Regions from separate parts of the Homo sapiens genome. Here regions 1 and 3 are each linked to region 2. Evidence: fine-mapped expression QTL. A gene starts in region 2. Each other region holds a variant in brackets. All regions are shown on one strand. Distances are from middle to middle.

What was found. PIP is the estimated chance that this variant, and not a neighbour inherited with it, causes the effect. A credible set is the group of variants that fine-mapping cannot tell apart.
Region 1: its variant is the best candidate, but not a certain one, in a credible set for the expression of CDC7 in whole blood (INTERVAL, PIP 0.86).
Region 3: its variant is the best candidate, but not a certain one, in a credible set for the expression of CDC7 in cerebral cortex (GTEx, PIP 0.52).

Annotation. Positions count from the first base shown.
Region 1 is chr1:91,546,573-91,549,334 of GRCh38, reverse strand. The region is part of intron 3 of LOC102723436 (a long non-coding RNA gene); the gene reads left to right. Among named protein-coding and RNA genes, the nearest start is that of CDC7, 47 kb to the right of the region's middle. The variant C/A (reference allele first, on the strand shown) is at 1,281.
Region 2 is chr1:91,499,254-91,502,015 of GRCh38, reverse strand. It overlaps CDC7 (cell division cycle 7), which reads right to left and starts at 1,165. Exons shown (of 12, transcript NM_003503.4): 1 at 1,068-1,165; 2 at 185-362. The coding sequence starts at 299. LOC105378856 (a long non-coding RNA gene) reads left to right here and starts at 1,168. Exons shown (of 3, transcript XR_947599.4): 1 at 1,168-2,762. RefSeq lists an enhancer at 324-523.
Region 3 is chr1:91,524,434-91,527,195 of GRCh38, reverse strand. It overlaps CDC7 (cell division cycle 7), which reads right to left. Exons shown (of 12, transcript NM_003503.4): 12 at 1,432-2,762. The coding sequence ends at 2,761. All of the region lies in intron 4 of LOC102723436 (a long non-coding RNA gene), which reads left to right. Among named protein-coding and RNA genes, the nearest start is that of CDC7, 25 kb to the right of the region's middle. The variant AT/T (reference allele first, on the strand shown) is at 1,485.

The sequences.
Region 1 (2,762 bases), 47 kb before region 2:
ATTCTTGGTCTGGCTGGCTGCCCCTAAGAGGCAGGGATAAATTAGGGAGGGCCTCAGATGTAGGGTGGGGGCTGGGGGATCTGTGAGGAAGGAAGATGTGGTGCCCAGAGGTACTGAGAAACCTCAGGGCTGGGTTTGAGGTGGCTCTGTATTTGAAGGGTGGAGCCCAAGAGACGGCTCAAAACAACATCCTTCCTTCCTTCCACAAATGTTGATTGTGTGATACATACCAGGCACTGTCCTGAGCATTGGAGATACAGTGATGAAGAACAGTCTTTTACAGAGTGGTTTAAGACATTTTTGAGGCAATCAGACTTAGGCTTAAATCCTCCTGCCTGTGCCACCAATTAGCTATGACCCTGGGAAAATTATTTAAGTCTTTGAGCCATGGCTTCTTCAACTATGAAGTGGGGACAACCTGACAGTTATGACTGAGAAAAGTGAGATTATGCAAGTGAAGCATTTAGTGTCGTCTCTGGTGCAGTGAGGACTGAGTGAATGATGGATGTCCACACAATGCTGTAAACCCCATAAGGCAGGGATTGTGTCTTGGGTTCACCTTGAATCTTCAGCACTTACTGGTGTGCACAGCAGATGCTAAAAGAATTATCTGTTGAAGGTTTGACAGTTAATGGAAGAGTCAGATTAGAGGCTAGGGAGCAGGCTAAGGGTCTGGAACAGGATGCAAAGTCAAAAGCAGAAACAGGATGTAGCAACGGAATATTCATAGTAAGTAAGTTACTGGGCAGGGGGCCAGGGGAAGCCTCTTCAAGGGGTGGAGGGTGTGTAAAGGAGCATGCAATAAAGGCACAGGGTTGTGATAGGTACAGGGATCTCCCCCTCACACCAGACCCATGGGCTCATTAACACTCCCCCCTGCTCACCTAAACACACCCTGCCCCACTTCCAGCAACCACTAATGATTACGATAATAACAAAGGCAACTAGCAGGCAGGACAGACAGTTCAATTATTAGAAAGTTGTCTACGGTGAAAACTGGGGACAGAAAGATAGGCTCTTGAGACCATATTTCTAAATCAGGGGCCAGTTTGGGAGGGAGAGGACCCCAGATCTGTGGCTGCTCAGATTTCCTCTCACCCTGTCCCTAGCCCACCATCTACCATCTATCTCCCTGATAGGATGGGTGACCATAGGTCCAGGTTGCCCAAGTTTAAGCTTGTTCCCAGAGCAGTCATTACTAAAGCAGGGATTCTTACACTTTTGTGTATACACCAATCACCTAGAGATCTTGTTAAAATGCAGACTTCTATGCAGTAGGT[C/A]TGGCTGGGTCCTGAGATTCTGCATTTCTTAAAAACTCCTAGGTGAGGCTGATGCTGTTTGCCTGAGGACTAGAGTAGCAAAGATCTACCTACCACTGGTTCTCAAATGTAACTATATCAGCATCATCTGGATTGACTCTGGGGTCCCAGACACACACACACACACACACACACACACACACGCACACACACACACGGTGTGCTTCAAGGGGGCTCAGAAAGACCTGCTCTGAAGTAGCCCCCTTCAAGAACTTCCATCTGCCTTTCCCACCAAATCTTTTTTTTTTTTTTAATTAAGGGAGCACAAACAAAAAATCACCGTGTTACCCTTAATGAATACATCTCAGTCTACACACAAGAGAAGGCATCATGGGACCTGGCAGCTCTCAGAGGGCATTGGGAGTGTAGCAGCTCTTCCTGCTCCAAAGAGCCACTCTAGAGTTTTCTAGAGTTTTTCCTTCAGACGTCCTGGTGTTTAGTTGTGTGGCATACATGAGGCTTTGTGGCAGTTGGTTAATATACTGTGGGACAAGAACTGAACTAGGCACTGTGTGGGACAGGGAAAGATGCACTCTGTGGCTTTAGGGAATTTGAAATTAAAAGATAAGATTTCAGATTCTTTCAAAGCCCGAGCTAAACACATGAAAAAAACAAAAACAAAAACAACAACAACAAAAAACACAGAACACCAGAGTGCTGAAAACAGAAGAATTGCAGTGGATGGGGTTGGAAAAGAAAGGCTTCCAGTTAGAAGTCAATTTCACACCGTGTTTTGCAGGAGCGAGTCCAGCGGATTCGTGGAAATGGATGGAGGCTGCTGAGTTGAGAGACTGAGAAGTGGAGGTACCTAGGAAGGTCCTCCCTGAAAATACATCGGGTTGTAAAACCTGGAAAGAAATACCTCCATTTGTCAGGCACTCACAGGGCGCTCTCCTCTGGCAGCTCCCATGTTGAGCGCCCAGGGCAGCGACCAGACGGCGTCCTGTCCTCCTGCACGGGGCCAGAACTGGATGGTCCCGCGACACATCGTGTCTGCAGCTTTAGAGGCCTCCCCAGGAGTGCTACCGCGGTCATTTCTGCCCAGCTGTAAAATAACACCCAATCAGCGAGCCGCCAGCTGCAAACTGTTCCGACCTACTCCTCCCTCCCCGGCTTAATTCCCACCTATACCAAAGTGGCCCCACGCGGGCAGAAGCGAAAGACGGAAATGAGGGGAGGCCAACTACTCGAGATCTGCGCCCGAAGCAGATTTTCCACGCGCTCAGAGTAGGGTCGGGGAAAGGCCCACTTGGGGCTTCTGAGAGAGAGGGAAGGGCAGGGAAAGGGCTGCCCCCCAGCAAGACACAGTTGGGTGAACAACTGAGTCTTTGCCTCGTTGACAAAGGAGAATGAGGGACTCGCGCCAGGCTGGCTTGAACTGACTGGAGAAAAGCGACTTCTGTAATTCAGGGCCCTCCTCGTGCGAAGGAAACTTTGGCAAAG
Region 2 (2,762 bases):
CAGTCTTCCAAATCGCAATTCAGTCCTACATTTAGATCATACGAAGCTCTGTTTTAACACTGTCCTATAGAAACATACAATTCACTTTATAAGATTCAATCTTATTTTTTGAGAGGAATTGAAAACACAGAATTGTTGCCTGAAAAATCTTTATAACTGTACATCTTTGGATTTAAACACGTACCTGCAAGTTTAAAATTCTGCTCGTTTTTTTTTAAAGAGCCTTCAGCCTGAAACCGGTCACGCTGGGGAGAAAAAGCCATTGGCTCATCCATCTGAATCCCCAAAGACGCCTCCATCACAAGCCAATTGAGATGCAAAATGCCAGCTAAGGGGTTACATCCACAGGGGGAGCAAAGCAGCTGTGAAAATTAGAACACTAGAGAAATTTAGATCACTCGCTAAACCACGCACTAAAAACATGCTACTGCCCCCCAAAGGGGCAAACATTTTCAAACGCACGATGTGTCCAAACCTCCACAGTAGGGCATACTGTGGCCTTGTCTAAGGAATTCCATGTGCTTTATTTTCACCTATCAGAAACACCGGCAGGGGGCTGCAGGGAGAATTTCCCGGCTTGGGCACCCGCGCAGCAGCAGGCGCAGTGGGAAACGGCGAGGCTGCCAGTCCGGCACAGCCAGCGGGACCGCGTGGGGGAGGGGCCGAGCGCCGGGGGCGGTTTGAAGTCAGGAAAAGAACTGAGGGAGAAAACCTTTTCGCCACTGACAGGAAGCGCCAGGAGGCTCGTCCAAGGCCCCAAGCAAGTTGACGGAGAACTGATACGACCCTGGCCACGAGTACTGGGCGGAGGAGGAGAAGGGTGAATGAATGGGAATCCGCCGGCCAGCGCTGGCCGCGAGCTCAGCCGGGAAGGACCGGCTTCCCTCGGGCCAGAGACCGAACCAGATGCTTAGTGCGCAGGCGCGCGACTTTCCCGCCGCAGGTCGGAGGGATCCGAAGGGGGGCGGGAAAAGGAACTGCACGGCGAGAAAACCGAAGTCACGATCCAGAATTCGTTCCTAATCCCTCACAATCCCGCGCCATGGAACAAACCGTCGGAAACTCACGGTTTAAGGGAGTACGACTTCTGTGGCTCCCCAGATGCCTGGGTCGCCGTCTCCAAGAGATCCCCACCTACCGAGTCGATCGGATGCGCCTGCGCAACACTTCCCGCCGCCGCTCTGGTTGCACATGCGCACACTAAAGCCCTCGACCCCGCGGATTCCGCTACTGGGCGTTTGCGCAAGAGGGTGGGGTTTCTTCCCGCCGCCTTGGCCAGCTAGAAGAGCGGTTACGGGAATGAAGCCCGTGGATGATCTTAAAAAACAGGGTGAACCATAAGGCTAAGGGCCCAGCATGATTTCCAGGAAAGAAGCTAGCTCAGAGAAGGAAAAATCTCAGGTGCTGACACATCCCTATATACGTGGCCGGCCGCACAACACATTGGGCACTCCATGGATAAAAGGCACTTTCTTGACTCTGCTTTTATTTCCTTTTCGTTGAGTGCCCTACTTCCCCGTTAAAAACAAGCAGAAAATGTAATTGCTGATTGTTTGTGGCTGTGTTAGTAGAAATTAGCACAGTGGCAGGAAGGCAGTGTATACTATTTACTGAGCCCTTGGCTATGAGGTAGGTGGGTTTTTCTAGGGGCTGGAATCATAGTGAGCAAGATAAACACCATCCCTGTAGGAAGCTAAATTCCAATGAAGCGATGACAATAACGGATGAATAAATGAACAGTATTCTTTCCGGCATTGATTACTACTTGAGGGAAATACTGACCAGGAAGGTGGCATCTAGATGGTCAGGGAAGCCCTCTCAAAGAGACCTGGATGAGAAAGAGCTGGTAGGGAGACTGTTGTCCTGGCAAAGAAAGGATAGGGCAAATGCAGAGAGAAAGAGGAACTTGGTATGTTGCAGGGGCAGGGCAGGAAAGGCCAGTGTGGGGGAAGCATAGTGAGTGAGCCGCAAGATAGTCCCAGATAGATGAAGGTGGAGAGTTAGGCAGAAGCCAGACCAGGGTCCTTGAAAGCCAGGGTAAGAAGTTTAGTGTTTGTTCTGAGTACAATTGGAAGCTATTTGAAAGTTTTAAAGCAAGGGAGTAATATGATCTATCTGTTATGAAGAGAATGGATTGTAGAGGGGCAAGTGTGGAAGCAGAGGAAATAGGATGCACTTTATGTTTAGGAGAAACATAATGGTAGTTTGGACCAGAACAATGGCGGAAGAAATAAAAGAAAGAAGACAATGGGATTTGGTGATTGGCTATGGAAAATGAAGAAAAGGGCATCATCAACAGTGAATCTTAGGTTTTGGGCTAGCATATGTGTGGGTGGTAGTGCCACATAGAAGGGAAGTCTGTGAGGTAATGGTTTTTGATTGAGTGAGGTGGAAGAGAGTAAATCAAGGATTCTAGTGTGGATACCGAGAAAGAGAAAAGCAGACCTTGACATCCAGGAGATGGCCTGGTACTACCAGCTTGGTTTGCTGTTGCTTTGAGCTGGCCTGGCAATCACAGCCAAGCATTGGTATTCTTCTGTTGAACATAAACAATTTCACAGAACATCAGACAAGACAGAGTTGTGACCGTGATAGATCAAGACAAAAGTAAGATCACTCTATAATCATATGTGAACACAGACACAACATCAACATTGCCCAAGCCATAAAAATGATCAAATATCTCCTTATCCTAGCTAATATGAGTGCCTGCTGCTTCTTTACCAATTATAGTTTTAACCTCAGTCTAGTCTTCCTTCCTT
Region 3 (2,762 bases), 25 kb before region 2:
TTGTTTTCCAAACTTCAGTTTTTTAATTTTCTCTCTTTTAATTTGCAATCACTTTCCTAAGATCATGCCTTTTTACTTTAGATAGCTAAAACATCGTTTACTAAATATTTGCCTTAGCACTGACCTTTGTGGTTACTTTGTTGAAAACTGTGCTGTAACTTGACACAATATTAACTACTTCTGATTACTTATCTGGTATACGTTTGGTAATATCTACCTTTCAAGAAAGGAAGACAGTTCAGACACATAATTTGACAAAATTAGGAATCAGCAACATCAGTTCTTCGAACATAGGAAAAAATCTGAACAGAGTTGACATTTCTATCTGGTGTTAGTGTTCTTTAAAGACCACAGACAACATGCACAAATGTAGGCGGAAACAATACATCTGCAGATACTGGCAGACAGCATTACCCGCCAAATTTGGCCAGTTTGTTAAGATAAATAACTTTTCAGTGACGTGCAGGGCTGAAATTACATAAACAACAGAAATTACTAAGACTTAAGCCTACGAGTTTTGTGGGTTTCAAGATTTTATGCAATCAATATTCTGACATCTGTAACACCATTTTGTCCCTAAAATGCTGATGCCAGGAACAGTAAGATATTAACGTTTTACTTGATGACTTGCTCATTATCTTGAAGTAAACCATGATTAATTCTTTGGAATAACCATTATTGAGCCACATATTTAGGTCATTAAGACAACTATAATCATCTCCTTATAAGGAAGTTTCATTAAAAATGCCAGAGAGCTCAGCCTGCTTCAAAAACCAATACTTGTAGCTTGTTATATTAATAGTTCTAAATGTCTAAGGCTTTTTAAATGAAAATACCCTTAACAGTTTTATCGAGCCTGAGCACTAGGAATTTTTAAAAACTGACAGTGAAAAATAGCTGATTAAGAGGAAATGGCATTAACTAGTTACCTTCTTAGTCTATCCTTAGAAATTCAAATATTTTAGAGACATTTCCCATTATTTAAAATGGTCTTCAGAAGGCTTAAAAATCTAAAGAATACGCATATAAAAGCTCCCTGCCAATTCTGATTTAGCACATTGGGAATATTTGTCCAAAATTGAGGCAATATTCTTCAGTGGGACTGAAATTCCCCGAGAACTAATTTGTAACACTGGGTATATTTAAAAACACTAGCTCCCTTTTACTTCCCCCTCAATATCAACCAAGTTCTTTGCCATTAATGAAAGTTAAAACAACAGCCCTGAATATTAAACTTTCTTAGAGAATGTCTCCTTATCTACCCTTTGGGTAAATTTTTCTTCCTCTTTAATTTCTGAATATATGTTAACATGACTGTTTCATTAACATACTATTTGCTGAAAGAATATCACCATTCACCCATCTCAAAAGAAAAATATTCCCAGTTGTCAATTAAAAAAAAAAGCTATTTTTCAAATGAGTAGTCTGACATAAAAAATATAAAAGGATAACTTTATTGAATATACAAATTCAAGAGCATTCAA[AT/T]TTTTTTTAAGATTATGGCATAAGACAGATCAATGGTAATGGTTTATATATCCTATACTTACCAAACAGATTAGGTAGATATACTGACCTATCAATGCTCAAAATAACAAAATGAATACATGTCCCTAAACTATTTCTGTATTCTATGACTACTAAATGGGAAATCTGTCAGCTGACCACCCACCAGACTTTTTCCCATAGGAAGTTTGATATGCTGTCATTGATATATACCATTTCTGAATATAAACCTCTATCTTGGGTCCTTTTCTCTTTGCCTACTTCATTATCTGTCTTCCCAACCCACCTAAGACTTAGTCAAAACAGGATACAGAGATCTGGATGGCTCTACGCAGAGGAAAAATCTCCAATAATACCGTCAATTCTGTATTCACTTTTCCTTTCAGCAGCTACCTAATTATATCTAAGATGGTGTGAAAAAATATACAACTCAAAAAAGAAAAGCATTTGGACTATCAATCTTCACCTTGGTCCTGCAGCTTCCCTTTATCAACCAGTGTATGTATTATTTTAAATTCCCAACTGTAAACACGTACAATATTTAATAAAACATCCAGAAACTTTGTGGTCAGCACCATGTAATTTCCGAGGAGAATGTTTTAGGTAGGGGCAGAGAAGGAAGAAAATTGAGAAGCCAGTAAGAAAAAAATGGCAATTCACACCAGAATGCTTTCATGAAGTGTTTTTTAAAAATGGATGAATTCAATTTTAAGTGATACTTTGCCCCATGACCAACATTTCCTCATTGTTTTAGTGTTCATAAAAGGCCTAATATGTACCTCTAGAAAAGGAAATTATCTTCTTTATTTACAAAATTGTTAAGAGCACCAGCACCAGGTTGAGTTTCCCCAAACTATACCTAGCTCATAACTCTAAAAGAATCTACAAATTAAGTCTTTTGATTCATTTAATCCTCATCACATCTGTTAATTTTAATTAATTAAAACTAAAACTGCTCCTTTTTCTGTATATGTCAGTGAAAGGTAATTAGGGAAGCTAAAAATCTGACCTAATAGGAACCCACCTAAAATCTACTTAGGTAGGTTTAACTCAAAGAAGATCATGTTGTTAGTCCCAAGAACTATCCCAGGCATTTTAAGTATTCTTAATCTATATTTTAGAATGTGCCACCAAACACTAAAATGTTAAAATAAATTATTAATCCTGCTCTGGTCTCTAAACAAGAACTTGTGGCTATTACAAAGTATTCTTTTTTATTCTACCTCATAACAGTAAACATTAAATGAAGATCCATTATC